2 separate regions of the Homo sapiens genome follow, and region 1 is linked to region 2. The links come from fine-mapping of genetic effects on plasma protein levels. A gene starts in region 2. The other region holds a variant in brackets. All regions are shown on one strand. Distances are from middle to middle.

Region 1 (8,000 bases), 140 kb after region 2:
ACAGCTATGCTTTAGCACACGTGGTAACACATTAAAGCTGCTACACTGAAACCCATGTTTACCAGGGGTCCAACCAAAATCTACTGAACAGACAAAAAAGCTTCCAGTTAGATTTCTATTTTTCTTCAGAAATGTAAAATGATAACATTATCCCACCATCTAGTGGTCAAAACGAAAAGTGTTTCAAGAGATGTCTCTAAACAGAGAACCAACTATTTGACCTGCTGCTGCCTCAGAGCCAACAGAAATCAAAGCAGCAACGTTCTCCTCGGGAAGCCGTGCTGTGATGAGCTTATTCTCCCCAGAGAGCCGATTCACTCCAGCACTTCCCACAGTACACCTGCTAGGTCGGCCAGGAACCACCGACTCTCATTCTACCCTTAGGACGATGCCTTCACCTGGGCCAATCCTGCATTCTTTATGCTACTCTTGTGCCAAACTGCCCAGCACCAGTATCTTATTCTCTAGGCCCAGTCAGTAAGTCAATTCAGGAAAAGTACATTAATCTTTTTTGTAAACGGCACTGTGTTAGTGAGGTAAAAAAGTGAATGGCATCTCCTTGAAGATTCCAGCCGCGAAGCACGCTATCCTTCACGTGTGTCCCTGACACACAAGGAAGAACACAGGAGACTCAGAGAAGTCTGCACAACAGTGCTCTGCCAGCAGAGAGCGAACTTCTGTGGTCTAGCACTAAATAACCGTAGGAAGTTAACTCAGGAGCTACTGGAGGAACCTAGAGCCCAGCAGTTGAGTAATTTGCCCAGTCCTAAATGGCTACACATCCACTGTTACACATTGATGTGATATTAGGAGGACACATCAGACCGTTCCAAACTGAGGGACGTTCCTATCACTGGTCAGTGACCTTAAACAGTGTCAAAGTCACAAAAGCCAGTGAAAGACTAAGGAATGGCTGCAGGGTGAGAAGGCTGAGGAGGCGGGAAGTGGAGCTGGCTGCTGGTAGGATAGGAATGGAGTCTGAGGATTCCGGGAGGAAAGGAGCCGTGGTAAGCCCCTAATGTCGGCCTGTGTTGTGGTTATGCAGGAATATGTCCCTGTTTCCAGCAAACACTAAATGCAGGGGGTGATGGCCTTCGGTCAGCAACCAACTCTCAGCCTAGCAAGGACAAAGCCTGTGAACCGTATTCCCCACCTAGCTGTTAGTTTGCAGTTGTTTAAAAATGATAAATTGTCTTCAACAGAACTTAGAGTGGGGGCCAAGCTGACCTTTATTTCAACTTTATGTATTCTTTCTTCAAGGTAAAAATTTCTACATCCAAAGGAAATGTCAGAATTTTATCAATTGCCATCTGATCTTAAAATGAACACTCCCAGAAGGAACCCAACAGAATGGGATTCTAGTGACACCTAGTGACCTTATGAAGTTAATGTTCACATTTTCAGTGGAAACCATGAGCTACTGCATTGGAAAGGCAGGCAGTTCACCAAGAAAGGACAGACGTGACATAAAAAATGCAGGTCAGTTTGGCTCTTATCTCTATGCTCTGCTGAAGAAAATTCAAGCTCACTAAAAGTCAGAGAAATGCAAATAAAAACTATTATTTTTCTTCTACAAATTAGAAAGAAGAACTGATAACTCACAACATTAGCAAAGGTATTGGGAAACATGCATTTTTTTGATAATTCCAGTGAGAATGGAAACCAGTACACTCCTTCCAGAAGATAATTTGGCAGCATCTATCATATTTAAATATGTAAACTCTCAGAAATGAACAGCCCACTTTGGGGATTTAAACCTATGGAAAGATTTATCACCCGCAAAAAGGTAATACATACAGAAGCTCAATGCTGTAATATTTCTAATTGAAAAAAATAACTAAGAAATGAAAAACTTCAATCACCAATAGGACACTGCTTACATAAATTACTGGACAGCTACTACAAAATATTCTTATATATATAAAGTGGGATGCATCTGCATGTACAGGCAAAAAAATGACCTGTAATAAAAAGTTGACTAAAGTGTATGGGCCGGGCGCAGGGGCTCATGCCAGTAATCCCAGCACTTTGGGAGGCCGAGGCGGGCGGATCACAAGATCAGGAGATGGAGACCATCCTGGCTAACACGGTGAAACCCCGTCTCTACTAAAAATACAAAAAAATTAGCCAGGCGTGGTGGCGGGCGCCTGTAGTCCCAGCTACTCAGGAGGCTGAGGCAGGAGAATGCAGTGAGCCAAGATTGCACCACTGCACTCCAGCCTGGGCGACAGAGCGAGACTCAGTTTCAAAAAAAAAAAAAAAAAGAAAAGAAAAGAAAAATGCCAAAAGATTAAGTTCACTTTTGAGCTTCTGAGGACCTTAAAAGTGTGCTTTTGCCAGGCACGGTGGCTCTTACCTGTAATCCTAGCACTTTGGGAGGCCAAGGTGGGCGGATCACCTGAGGTCAGGAGTTAAACCAGCCTGGCCAACATGGTGAAACCCTGTCTCTCCTAAAAATATAAAAATTGGCCGGGCACAGTGGCTCACGCCTGTAATCCTAGCACTTTGGGAGACCGAGGAGGGCGGATCACAAGGTCAGGAGATCGAGACCATCCTGGCTAACACAGTGAAACCCCGTCTCTACTAAAACCACAAAAAATTAGCCGGGCGTGGTGGCGGGCTCCGGTAGTCCCAGCTACTCGGGAGGCTGAGGCAGGAGAATGGCATGAACCCAGGAGGCGGAGGTTGCAGTAAGCCGAGATCGCACCACTGCACTCCAGCTTGGGCAAGAGAGTGAGACTCAGTCTCCAGAAAAGAAAAAGAAAACTTTGCTTTTGGATAACGAAGTTACAAGTATTATGGGGTCTGCATGAGCCCCTTGAGAAAGGCTGGGGTTAGTGGTGGGCAGAAATAGAGAGAGAGAGAAAGGGGATAGAGAATGAGTCAGGGGCTGGGCCAGCAAAGCAGAGTAAGAATCCCTAACTCTCAGCAGAACACACTACCAGTGACCATCCCCATTGTAGGGTTAGCTGAGAGGCCCTATTAGGTACAGAAATGGCTACTATTTTAATTTTGTCCATGCATCTCCATTTACTTCAAGCTTCTAGTAAAGGTCTCTGTTTCTGCACTCTCCCCTCCACATTTCTATACGACTTTTAAAATGTAGTTTTTTTTCAAATCATTTTCCCCCATGATATTTTCTCTAGTATCTCTACGCCACTTAACTAAATTTTCCTTTGTTCATAATTTGTTAGAACAAATATTTACTGAGCATCTACTATGAGCCAGATGAATGTTAGACTTACTAGAAACACAACCATAAATAAGACAGACAGGTAGCTGCTCTTGGAATCCACATTACAATAGAAAGACAAAATGCATGATTAGATACACAGACAGATAAAGCAGTCAAATGAACAAAATAAGTTTTAATAGTACACACAGGAAAAAAGGAGCTGAGACAGAGAATAACAAATAGGGCTTGAACTGTGAACTGGGGACAGAGGAAGCTCTTCTGATAAAGC[G/A]ACCTTGCAATGCAACATGTATAAAGGAGCTGACTACAAAACTGGGTTTAGAATCAGGAAGACGGGGCAGAGTTCTCAGCACAGGCCAAGAACTAAAGGCAGAAAGAGTGTAGCCTTGGGGACGTGGAAGCCCAGAGCATTTGGAAGACGCAAACAAGGGAGAGGGGAGCAGCTGACAATGGAAGGGAAGGGGACCATCATGCAGCACACTGGACCTGGGTCAGCAAACTTCTGTAAAGGGGAAAGTAGTGAATGCCTTAGGCTTCGTGGGCCGTAAGGTCTCTGCCACAGGATCCAAATCTACAGCTGTAGTACAGAGGCAGCCACTGACTACATCGTCAGATGAACATGCCTGTGTTCCAATAAAACGGTATTTATGGATACTAAAATTGAATTTCATATAATGTAAATATCATGAAATAGTAAACATTTGAATTTTTTTTTTCTCTTAACCATTCTTACCTCATGGGCCATTAAAAAAAAATAAACAGTATGGCAGGGTGGATTTGGCTGGGGGATGATAGTTGGCCATTCTCTGCTATAGACCACTGAACTCTAAGCCATTTTGTCAGAAGGATAAAGCTGATCCATGTGTTGAAGTATTACAGGTAGTTAGGCATAAGCCCGGCAGGAGAGGCCTCTACCACCCACTAGGAATGTTGGGTGATAGCTCAACAATTATCACATTGCCTCTCTAAAAGTGATAAATTGGCAGCCAGAGCCAGGGAGAGGCCATTTCCTGACAGTCCACACCTGTTGTGCTAAAGTGTTAACTGAATGCAGACGCCAGGGAGAGGCCATTTCCCGGGCATGCACATTAAGAGACAAAATGGCGGAGAAACGGGAAGAAAGCTTCAGATGGGCACCCACACAACTTCCTAAACAAGCTGCCTGTGCTCAATTCCCGCACTGTGCATGCGGGCAGCCCACCCTAAGGGAAGAACTGCGGAAAAGGGCGAGCCTACAAATCCCAGGATCAAGGTTAAACATCAAATTAGACCTCCATGCCCGCCTGGGACTCTTCCCAGTGTACTTTCCTTTCTTTCTGTTCTGACGCCTTTTAAATAAACTTCTGCTCCTGCTCTGACCCTTGCGTCAGTCTCTTCTTTTGCCTTATGCTCCTCCGTGGAATTCTTTCTTTTGAGGAAGCAAGAACTGAAGTTGCTGCAAACCCATACGTGTTTGCTGCCGGTAACTTGGATACCTTCCACTGGTAACAAAAGGGGTTACATTTGCTTATGTATAAGAAACAAAATGAAACAGACAGGCATGAGGCTGCTACAGTAACTGAAGCAAGACATGATACTTGTCTCGACTGTAACAGCAGAGATAAAGATCTATGAGAGATCGATTTTGAGATAAAAATCAATAAGCCATTTCAATGGACTCCATAAGAAGATGAGGTAGAGAAAACAATGATGGCTGGCTGATACTGAGTCTTACCCCATTCCCTCCCCGAAAAAAAAGCAGAAAATAAAAAAGAAACTTAAATAAAAGACACATATGACCTACATTCTCACTGACACGGAGATAACAGCGCAAATTCAGATGACCTATAAGTAGAAAAATAATCAAATTCCAACACAGCTGCAAGTCTATGGATGCAGAAAGTCGGGGAGAATACGCTTAAGACTCCATAAAAAGTAGTACAGCCTGGAGAACTTACATGAAGCACAGGTAAAAGAAGTCTCAGAAAGAGGACACCCAGCACAACTGCCACAACAGAGAACCCACACAGCTCACAGCACCCACTCCAGGGAAGGGGTCTGAATGGGAGCAAGACTAGGACAGGCAGGCTCTGAAAAACATCAGTTCTGGGGGGAGTGGCAGCCCTTGAACCAATGGCAGTGAAAAAAAGAAGAAACTAAGAGAAAAACATTTAAGGATCCTATAGAAACAAAACGCAAACGAGATACACGAGCCCCTCCCTCCTCCCTCCCTCACCAGCATCACCTATAAAAGAAACTATGCAAGACAGCAGAACTGACAGAAGAGGACGCTCTGGCCACAAGCCTGGCCTATGCAATGAATGGAAATAGAATAGACTACATCCATTTTAAAAATCTATTTTAAAAAAACAAAGAAAAAGCAAATCATTTCAGCTGAGGAAAACCCATCACACTCCCTAAAATAAAAGCAAACACAAAACTGAAGAATATAACAAAACCCTTGAACTTGAATCAAATATTATCAGCTGGGTGCAGTGGCTCACACCAGTAATCCCAGCACTTTGAGAGGCTGGAGTGAGTGGATCACTTGAGCCCAGCCTGGCCTACATAGTAAGATCCCATCTCTATAAAAAAAATTCTTTAATGCCGGGTTGCACTTTGGGAGGCCAAGGCAGGTGGATCACAAGGTCAGGAGATCAAGACCATCCTGGCTAACACGGTAAAATCCCATCTCTACTAAAAATACAAAAAAAAAAAAAAAATTAGCCAGGTGTGGTGGTGGGCGCCTGTAGTCCCAGCTACTCGGGAGGCTGAGGCAGGAGAATGGCATGAACCTGGGAGGCAGAGCTTACAGTGAGCCGAGATTGCGCCACTGCACTAGGCCACAGAGCAAGACTCCATCTCAAAAAGAAAAAAGAAAAAAAAAATTTTTTAATGGCTGGGCATGGTGGCACATGCCTACAGTCCCAGCCACTAGGGAGGGCTGGGGTGAGAGGACTGATTGAGCCTTAGAGGTCAAGGCTGCAGTAAGCTGCAACTGAGTCATTGCATTCCAGCCTCGGCAACAGAGCAAGACCCTGTCTTCAAAAAACAAAAACAAATACTGTCAAATAAGTATTTGGGGTAAAAATGCGTGTGTGTGTGTGTGTGTGTGTGTGTGTGTGTGTGTCTGTGTGTGTGTGTGTGTGTGTGTATGTGTATATAAATATAAAAGGGTTGAAGTCAAGTTGACTGAAATAAAAGATAGCTAAGCAGGCCCAACGTAAACATAATTGGAGTCCCAGAAGAAAAGCAAAACAACGAAGCAGAATATTTAAAACTATAATCCCAGAAACTTTTGCAGAAATATAGACCTGAATCTGTTGAAAAGGCCAAGCCAGAACTGGAATGATCAATTCAAAACATATTACAGTAAAGCCATGAGTCTTAAAAAAAAAATCCTGGCCGGGCGCTGTGGCTCACGCCTACAATCCCAGTACTTTGGGAGGCTGAGGCAGGCAGATCACGAGGTCAGAAGATCAGGATCATCCTGGCCAACATGGTGAAACCCCGTGTCCACTAAAAATACAAAAATTAGCTGGGCGTGGTGGCACGTGCCTGTGATCCCAGCTACTCGGGAGGCTGAGGCAGGAGAATCGCTGAACCAGGGAGTAGGAGGTTGCAGTGAGCACAGATCGCGCCACTGCACTCCAGCCTGGCGACAGAGCGAGACTCCGTCTCAAAAAAAAAATGATAAAATAAAAAATATCCCTAAGGAGTCTCCAAAAAGATCAAATAATGTTGAAGGGAAGAAGAATTAGACTGGCATCAGATGCTTCAAAAATAACATACTAAGTTCCATTTCTGTTTATGCCTAACAAACCAATATACAAATATAGGTGAACTATAAGCTATACGTCCTGGAAATACAGGAAAAATAAAATAAAATAAACCAACTATGTGAGAGCTTTGAAAGCTGGAGGGAAATAAAAGAAAAAGAAAGAACAGGCAAATTTTAAAAGGAAGCAAAAGAATCTGGGCATCACCACTTTTTCTGTCTGTCCCCTAAAGGCAGCCACAGTCTCTGAGGGAGCTGGTGTGGCGCAGCAAGCACTCAAGCAGAAGCTCCGGCCTCCTTTCTCGCTGAAGAGACCAGGGGAAGGAGACTGGGCAGCTAGGGCTACTAGAGAAATGAGGTAAGGACTCAGGAAGTAAGAGAACCATAGGAGAAACCCCAAATTCTGAGTATAGAAGTTCAAGTCTCTGGCTGACCCCTGAACAACATGTGTTTGAGGCAAACAAATCAGCCTGCACCTGAGGCTTAAAGGGCGCATCTAAGCAACTGCCCACATAATGACAGTGTGCGTTTCATTTTAACGACAAGTTAACTGCTTGCTAAAACAAAAACCTCATGCTCTTTGCGACAATAGAAAAGAATCCAGAGTCTACATAGTATTTACAACGTGCAAAATACAACCTCAAATTATTTGCCATATGAAGAGCCAGAAAAATGTGACACACTATCAAAGAAAAACAAAAACAAAACAGATACCAACCTCAAAATTATCAGACAAGGTCATTAAGACAACTATTTATAACTACACTCATCGAGGTAATAGAAAATACACTCATAACCGAAGACAGGAAAACCAAAGGTGAGAAATCTCACATGAAACCGAAATAAAAAGAATGTATACAAAAACCAACTAGAAATGTTAGAAATCAAAAATATCTCAAATAAAGGTACTAAGTAGCAGAATGGATTTGATGGAGAAAAAAGTCAATGAACTTGAAAAAAGATCAATCTGAGGAGAAAAAAAAAGACTGAACAATAATGAAGAAGAAGGAGAGCACTATGGACAAATGCAAACGTTTAAAAGGTGTATTA
Region 2 (8,000 bases):
CACTTGCATCCCAGGCCACTTCCTGGCCCCTCTCCCCACCTGGCATCCTTAATTCACTTCAGTGTGGCACTTTCTCTAAGCACCTATTCTATCCCGTTAGTAAGCCCCTGTAAGCAGCCACACAGAAGGCTGAGCCGAGGCACCAGTCCTCCCCTGTTCACACGGTGGTCACTGCACCGTGTGCACTATCCATGGCCTTGCCGATCAAACATGGTCACCGCACCGTGTGCACTATCCATGACCTTGCGGATCACACATGGTCATCGCACCGTGTACACTATCCATGACCTTGCGGATCACACACGGTCACCGCACTGCATGCTCTATCATGGCCTTACCGATCACACACGGTCACCGCACCACGTGCACTATCCATGGCCTTGCTGATCATACATGGACACCACGCCACGGGCACTATCCATGGCCTTGCCGATCACACACGGTCACCGCACCGCGTGCACTATCCATGGCCTTGCCGATCACACACGGTCACCACACCGCGTGCACTATCCATGGCCTTGCCGATCACACATGGTCACCGCACCGCGTGCACTATCTATGGCCTTGCCGATCACACACCGTCACCGCACCGCGTGTACTATCCATGGCCTTGCCGATCACACACGGTCACCGCACCGCGTGCACTATCCATGGCCTTGCCGATCACACATGGTCACCGCACCGCGTGTACTATCCATGGCCTTGCTGATCACACATGGTCACCGCACCGTGTGCACTCACTATCCATGGCCTTGCGGATCACACACGGTCACCACACCATAAGCACTGTCGATGGTCATGCCAATCACACATGGTCACCGCAACACGTGCACTATCCATGGCCTTGCCGATCACACACGGTCACCGCACCACGTTCACTATCCATGGCCTTGCCAATCACACAGGGTCACCGCACCACATGCACTATCCATGGCCTTGCCGATCACACATGGATACCACACCACGGGCACTATCCACGGCCTTGCTGATCACACATGGTCACCGTGCTGTGTGCCCTGTTAATGGCCATGCCGACCACAGGTGGTCACTGTACTGTGTGCACTCTCCATGGCCTTGCTGACCACACACGGTCGCTGCACGGCGTACAGTGTCAATAGCCTTGCTCGCCACACACGGTTATTGCACTGTGTGGACTGTGGATGGCCTTGCTGACCACACACGGTGGTTGCTGCACTGTGTGTACTGCTGACAGCCTTGCCAACCACACACGGTCACCACACCGCGTGCACTGTGGACGGCCTTGCCCAGCACCTCCTACCCCCACAGACCACCTAGGCTCTCAGAGGCCAGCAAGCTACAGTCCAGGCCCGGTTTCTAACAGCCTATGAGCTAAGAATGGTTTTTAAACTTTTAAATGATTGCAGAAAATAGAATCTTTCATGATGTGAAAATTACAAGAAATTCAAATTTCAGTATCACGAATAAAGCTTTATTGGAGCCCAGCACGCTCACTCAGTTAATGCTGTCCCACAGCTGCTTTGCACCGCATTACCTTTGAGTGGTGGCGATGGTGGCCGTATAGCCTGCAGAGCCGAAAATAATTACCATCTGACACTGGACAGAGTTTGCCAACTCCGGCTCTACTAGAGCTTCCCCTGACTCTCTGGTTCCGATAATTTCCATTTAGGAATCTACAAAGAGCTGTTCCTTCCATGTTCGGAACTTGAGGGAATTTGAAAAGGATGGAGTCCATGCCAGCTGCACATGGCATATTGTGCACCCGGAAGCATCACTGTCTTTCTTTGTGCTCCGACTGCTCTCTCTTACCACATCCAATTTGTTTATGGGTCTCTCCCTCTCCATACACTATTAGCTTCTTTAGGTCAGACACCCAGTTGCCTTAATCTCTATCCCCAGTGCATAGCATGGTGTCTGACACAAGGCTGGTAGACAAAAAGTACTGTGGTGTGCCCTCTTTCTATTTGTTCCTTTTAAACTACTCTATTTGCCTGGAAGACAACTGAATGACTTTTAAAACCATATATGCAGGCCAGGTACAGTGGCTCACACCTGTGATCCCAGCACTTTGGGAGGCCAAGCAAGAGGATCATTGGATGCCAGGAGTTCAAGACCAGCCTGGGCAACAAGAGTGAGACCCCGTCTCTACAAAAAATAATCTTGAAAAAAGGTAAAACCACATATGTGATATTAATACCTTACAATATGCTTTTTCAAACAGGAAATAAAAAAATTGTACCCTATGCCACTGCCACTGCTTTGCATTCAGAGAATAGCAGAGTTATACTATTTGATGGTGGAAGAACTGATCCCCATTTAATGGAGCATGCCTGTAAAGAAAAGGAACAAATATTTCTAAACATACAATTATATCTTAATCCTAAAAACCCTACAGAGAAAAAATGATCTCCATCTTATGACTAGGGAGACTGAGGCTCCAAGAATGGAAGCATTTGCTGGAGGTCACACAGAAGCAGGGTTCTAACACAGGTCTCATCTTTAAGACCTATATGCTTTCTTCGACGGTGCACTGTCCGGATGGGTATAGCATCTTTAATTGGTTCCCTTAGTGGAAACCATGTCCAGAACCTTGGTGGAATCATACTACCTCTTCTACTAATGAGATCCTTCCAGAGCATGTCTTCCAGCTTTTCTGTGTGACAGAACCCTTTGGTTGTCTGGTGAAGCCTATAAACACCTTCTCAAAAGAAGACACATGCTACTTTATTCCAATGTTCAGTAGCAAGATCTAGGGCTGGGTTTAATAAAAATGTAGTTCTGAGTATTGTGGCAGCAAATAAAAAGAGCTGATTTCTGAGGATGAGAAAGTCACAGATATTCACACTGTTGTTCGTTAACTATTCATTGATAAGGGAAAGGCTGTCTTTCGGTTAGAGCTTAGTAAAAAATAAAGATCTTTTATGGGTAGATGTGGTCTGTTAAGTCAGTGTACCAGCTATTCAGCGCTCACTGGGAATAATAAACCTTGTACCTTGAGAGATAAACCGCAGCAAAGGCAGGGGGCTTTTTCCCTATGTACACTTGGGCTGCTGAGTTAACATATTATTAATCTCTGAAGTATTAAGTTTTAGTTGTTAAAGGAAGTGACTTGCAGAACTTACAGAGCCATAGGATTGAAGGTGAAAAATCTTGTGAGTGCACCCCTTGAATTGCACAGATGAGGACATTAGAGCTTAATTAAAACAGGGAAGTGACTTGCCCGAGTCTAATACCAAGGGGGACTAATGTAATTGATAATGTGTTACAAAATGCTGAGATGTCAACAAATTCTGACACAATAAAGAAGTTTGTGGGCCAGGCATGGTGACTCACACCTGTAATCTCAGCACTTTGGGAGGCCAAAGGCGAGTCGATCACAAGGTCATGAGTTTGAGACCAGCCTAACATGGTGAAACCCTGTCTCTACTAAAAATACAAAAATTAGCCGGGTGTGGTGGCGTTTGCCTGTAATCCCAGCTGCTCAGGAGCCTGAGGCAAGAGAATCACTTGAACCCGGAAGGCGGAGGTTGCAGTGAGCCAACATTGCCCCACTGCACTCTAGCCTGGTCGACAGAGCGAGACTCCGTCTCAAAAAAAAAAAAAAAAAAAAAAAGTTTGTATTCCTCTTTCTACACAGGCACTTAAATTCTAATTTCTCTATTGTAATGTAATGAACTTAATCAGTACAGTGTATTTTTAGAGTGAATATCCAAGTGGAGTTTTTTTAAAGAATAAAGGTCAGAGCTCAGAAACTGATGTTTCTAACGTGACTTAATAACAGATCTTTCTATCCAACTGTTCGGAAATGAAAATCTTTTGTAACTTGGCTAGTGGTTCAAGAATCAACTAAAATCAATGAATCTATTTTTCCCTCTGAAAAGGCACACGTTTACAGGAGCCAAACTTCTTCCTCTTTATTTGTAATAACAAAAATAAACCGAAGTCCTGACCTATTTGTAATATTTTTATTCCTAAAGGAAAAAACAGGAACTTTCATTGTACTTCAACATTAAAGTTATTACCTCAGATATTTTGCCAGCTTAGCACGGCAAAAATCAGTTTCAGACAAAAGAGATCAACTGCTCTCTCTAGGAAATACTTAATTGGGGTGGTGCCTAGGAAATGCCCAGGGGTCCTGTAACAGATCGGTTTTTCCCAGAGGGTTTCTGCAGCATGGGTCCTGGTTGGAGGGCAGGCATTCTGCTCTGATTTTTCCTGTTGCCTGGCTAGTGACCCCCTACAGGAAGATAACGGCTAAGCCAGGAGGGCGGAGCAGCCCACTACACATGTCTGGCTGCTCTTATCAACTTATCATATAAGGAAAGGAAAGTGATTGATTCGGATACTGACACTGTAGGATCTGGGGAGAGAGGAACAAAGGACCGTGAAAGCTGCTCTGTAAAAGCTGACACAGCCCTCCCAAGTGAGCAGGACTGTTCTTCCCACTGCAATCTGACAGTTTACTGCATGCCTGGAGAGAACACAGCAGTAAAAACCAGGTTTGCTACTGGAAAAAGAGGAAAGAGAAGACTTTCATTGACGGACCCAGCCATGGCAGCGTAGCAGCCCTGCGTTTTAGACGGCAGCAGCTCGGGACTCTGGACGTGTGTTTGCCCTCAAGTTTGCTAAGCTGCTGGTTTATTACTGAAGAAAGAATGTGGCAGATTGTTTTCTTTACTCTGAGCTGTGATCTTGTCTTGGCCGCAGCCTATAACAACTTTCGGAAGAGCATGGACAGCATAGGAAAGAAGCAATATCAGGTCCAGCATGGGTCCTGCAGCTACACTTTCCTCCTGCCAGAGATGGACAACTGCCGCTCTTCCTCCAGCCCCTACGTGTCCAATGCTGTGCAGAGGGACGCGCCGCTCGAATACGATGACTCGGTGCAGAGGCTGCAAGTGCTGGAGAACATCATGGAAAACAACACTCAGTGGCTAATGAAGGTAGGAAAAAAATCCATCTGTCTTTGTGAACATGCTATTAAGATCAGCTTGGCAGCAGCTCAGGTTTTAACAACCAAAAAAAAAAAAAAAAAAAGAAGGAGGATGAAGAGGATTAGAGCTGGAGAGCGGGTTGCTGGTACCCTCAAATGAAAGATAATTTCTTTTATTCTATCCCAGGGTGTGTGGGTAGTCCCCGGGGTGAAAATAATTATTTGGAAAGAATGCCAGAGTCAATACAGAAAATCTCTAAAGTTAGAAATCTTTATTAACAAGGTAGAGGAAATATACTTCCCTGCACAACTTGTGTGCCGTTCTGTTTGTTTACATCGTTTAAGCTCAGTAACACCCATCACCAGGGAGGCTCTCAGCTGGTTGCAGGCAAGTGAGGGAAGGCTGTGAGCCGCAGCAGCCCGTGAGCCAGAGAGACCGTGACAACCATGCTGATGACCGAGGCATAACGGATGGAGTAAAGTGCTTTACCAATTTCCTGAATTTATTTACTAAAATAGGTTGTGACTCTTGGTAAACGAGAGGAAATTAAATAAAGCAGACCTTATGTTTCTCAGAATCTCAGGGCCCTACCACTAAGGGCTTGCCGTCTGTAAACAGGGGCACAGTTCCCAAGCGTCCCAGAGGTATTCAGCACTGCAGCCCCCGTCAGTTCCAGCAACCGGTGCGGAATGCGTCCCCACGTGGGACGGTTATGTTCAAGTCATGCCACGACAGGACGGTCTGTCTGACAGTTTGTTCTTGGGGTGATTCCACTGTTTCACAGATGATCCCACTGTTTCCTAGAGTTTTTATGGAGACGTAACCAAAATAGGATATTGAAAGCTCTGTTTTTCTTTCATAAATAATTTTTTTTCACATGTAAACATGGGAGCTATTTATACAAAATCCAAAACGAACCTGGAATTTTCTTTATATGGACTATATATATTCTAAAGGAAGTTTAAACAAAATGCATAAATTAATTGTTAAGTAGCATGATGATGCCATTACATCACAATGCTTACATGGCAGGGAATGTGATTATCTAAAGCTATGTAAAGTCTTTTAAAAGTTGGTGAGCCTCATTTGACGCATGACCCTAGAAAAAGCACAATTATTTTCTCACTCTTTCATTTCACCATAAACCTTTTGTTAGGACACCTTATCTGAATCTCAGAACGGATCTTGGAGCCTAATCGGTGCTCCTCATTACCTCCCCTACCTTCAGAGAGGAAACGACTAAGTTATTATTTGAGTCATGAGCTTAAATGAATGAATGTGAATGAATGTTCCCAGCACCACTGGTTACTGTGTCAAGAGGAGTCATTTAAAACAACAAAAACTTACCAAAATGACCTATCAAATGTAGATTTCATGTGACATAAAACTCACTAGCAATGTCTTTTTAAGCTCCTGGCTAAGCGCTCCAGTAAGTTTCCCTCCTTTCCCAGGTCACTGTGGTTTGCTTTTAAACATCTTCTAAAATTCATAGCTGTGTGAATAATTACGCTAAGCTTAAAAAGTATGCAGCAACACAGGTTGAAATATGTGGAAGGCAAACTATATCCTAAATATCTGCTTAACTTGAACTTCCTATTTCTTTGTAAACCGTCAAGCTGATGGTTAATGGCTTTCCCACATCCACCGTGGTTACAGAGTCACAGCGAGGCATGAAAGATGCACTGCAGTAAATATTCTAATCTGCCCGACAGGCAGGTCATCTCCTCGAAGAAACAGCCAGGAAACATAAAAGAATGCTAGGCCAAATGCAAGGCTGCTACATTGTATTTGCTTAATTAACTTACATTAGGTATACCTGAAACTCCATAAGCAAAGCTCATATTTCTTTCTTAGGTAAACTACCCCTTCTCTTGGGTCTTTGAGATAACATTTAAAGACAGAAAAAGACAACGAGTTCTATGTTAGGCGACCAAAATTTCTTCCTTTCCAGGTTCACTTAGTCAATATTTGAACAGCAGTAGCACAATGGTATTTCAAAAGTCCGTCTTCAGCTGTCTAGCTAAATACCGTTTCCCCAAGAATGACTTAATGTTTATCTTTTCACGGGCTCCACACCTGTTCTCCCAGCCTATCTCAGCAACGTGCACCTGAGAAAGGCAATTTGCACTCTCGCTCGGTTTACGGCTTCTGGCTTGGGAATGAAAACAAAAAAGCAAAGATGAAACCCACTTAAAGTGATTAAATGTAACCTCACTGTTTGTTTTTCTCCTGTGTTTTGTCACCTGTGATAATAAACACTGATTTTCTCATGAGGAAGAAAATAATATAAAATGGAATGAGAGATAAGCCACACAGTTAAAGGGTTATCATTACAACCTAACACCCACTGATTTAATTAGCACAGAAAGCAGCAGCACAATTCTGGGTTTTTCATGGTTTTACATATTTTCTTTTGAGCTATTTTTTGAAAAAAATGTTTCCATATCTCCTTTCTCTCCTGGATCAGCACTAAAAATGAAAGATTCAAAAACAACCCACTACAAAATCCGTACACTTTTAGGAAATTAAAACATGTGTCAGGAAGGAAACTAAGACCAAGTTTCTGGTTCATTTTAGGGCAAATAAATAGTAGTTCAACCTCTGAGTGGTCAGCATAGCCTAGGGAGCTTAGACTAAGAAAGCAGGTTTCACATCATCAAAAGGTCCCACGCTGCCCCTTTAATCTGTCCGGCAAAGGAAGTGTCAGGCTTCTGAATGAACTCAGAGGAATATGAATGGAACAATACAGGACAGCTTACTCACTGTGTAGTAGTTAAACAAGGATCAGATAAACTCATGATCGCTAGCACACAAAACACACTGCAGTGGACCAAACACTACTCATGCTACGTCTCTCTTGCTAATCCTGCAACTAGTGTGAACCTCTGCCCTGGTGATATTAAACACACTTTATAAAAACTCACAAATAATTTAGCAAAATGGATTGTATTTTGCTAGGAGACCACAGGAATTTTTTTTTCTGATAAGAGGAAATATGGAAAGGAAAGAACTATTTCACACTGATGAGTGCCTCATACCTATAAACAACTGCAGTCTATGAACACGTTAAAACAGAATGATTTGAAA

Which allele goes with the higher level. Alleles are on the strand shown, and positions count from the first base shown. The strength of an association depends on the size of the effect and on how common the allele is.
For the plasma level of the protein whose gene starts at base 4,324 in region 2, G is the high allele of the variant in region 1 and A is the other (moderate association).

Evidence for each region. PIP is the chance, under the fine-mapping model, that this variant and not a neighbour inherited with it causes the effect. Protein levels are from antibody-based Olink assays in UK Biobank. Linkage for the fine-mapping came from a reference panel and not from the study's own genotypes, which makes the PIPs less certain.
Region 1: its variant is fine-mapped to the plasma level of the ANGPT2 protein (UK Biobank, PIP above 0.99).

What each region holds. Positions count from the first base shown.
Region 1 is chr8:6,417,455-6,425,454 of GRCh38, reverse strand. The region is part of intron 3 of MCPH1 (microcephalin 1); the gene reads right to left. Among named protein-coding and RNA genes, the nearest start is that of MCPH1, 15 kb to the right of the region's middle. RefSeq lists an enhancer at 7,295-7,344. The variant G/A (reference allele first, on the strand shown) is at 3,465.
Region 2 is chr8:6,559,569-6,567,568 of GRCh38, reverse strand. It overlaps ANGPT2 (angiopoietin 2), which reads left to right and starts at 4,324. Exons shown (of 9, transcript NM_001118887.2): 1 at 4,324-4,922. The coding sequence starts at 4,635. All of the region lies in intron 12 of MCPH1 (microcephalin 1), which reads right to left. RefSeq lists enhancers at 4,455-4,981, 4,982-5,507 and a silencer at 6,367-6,661.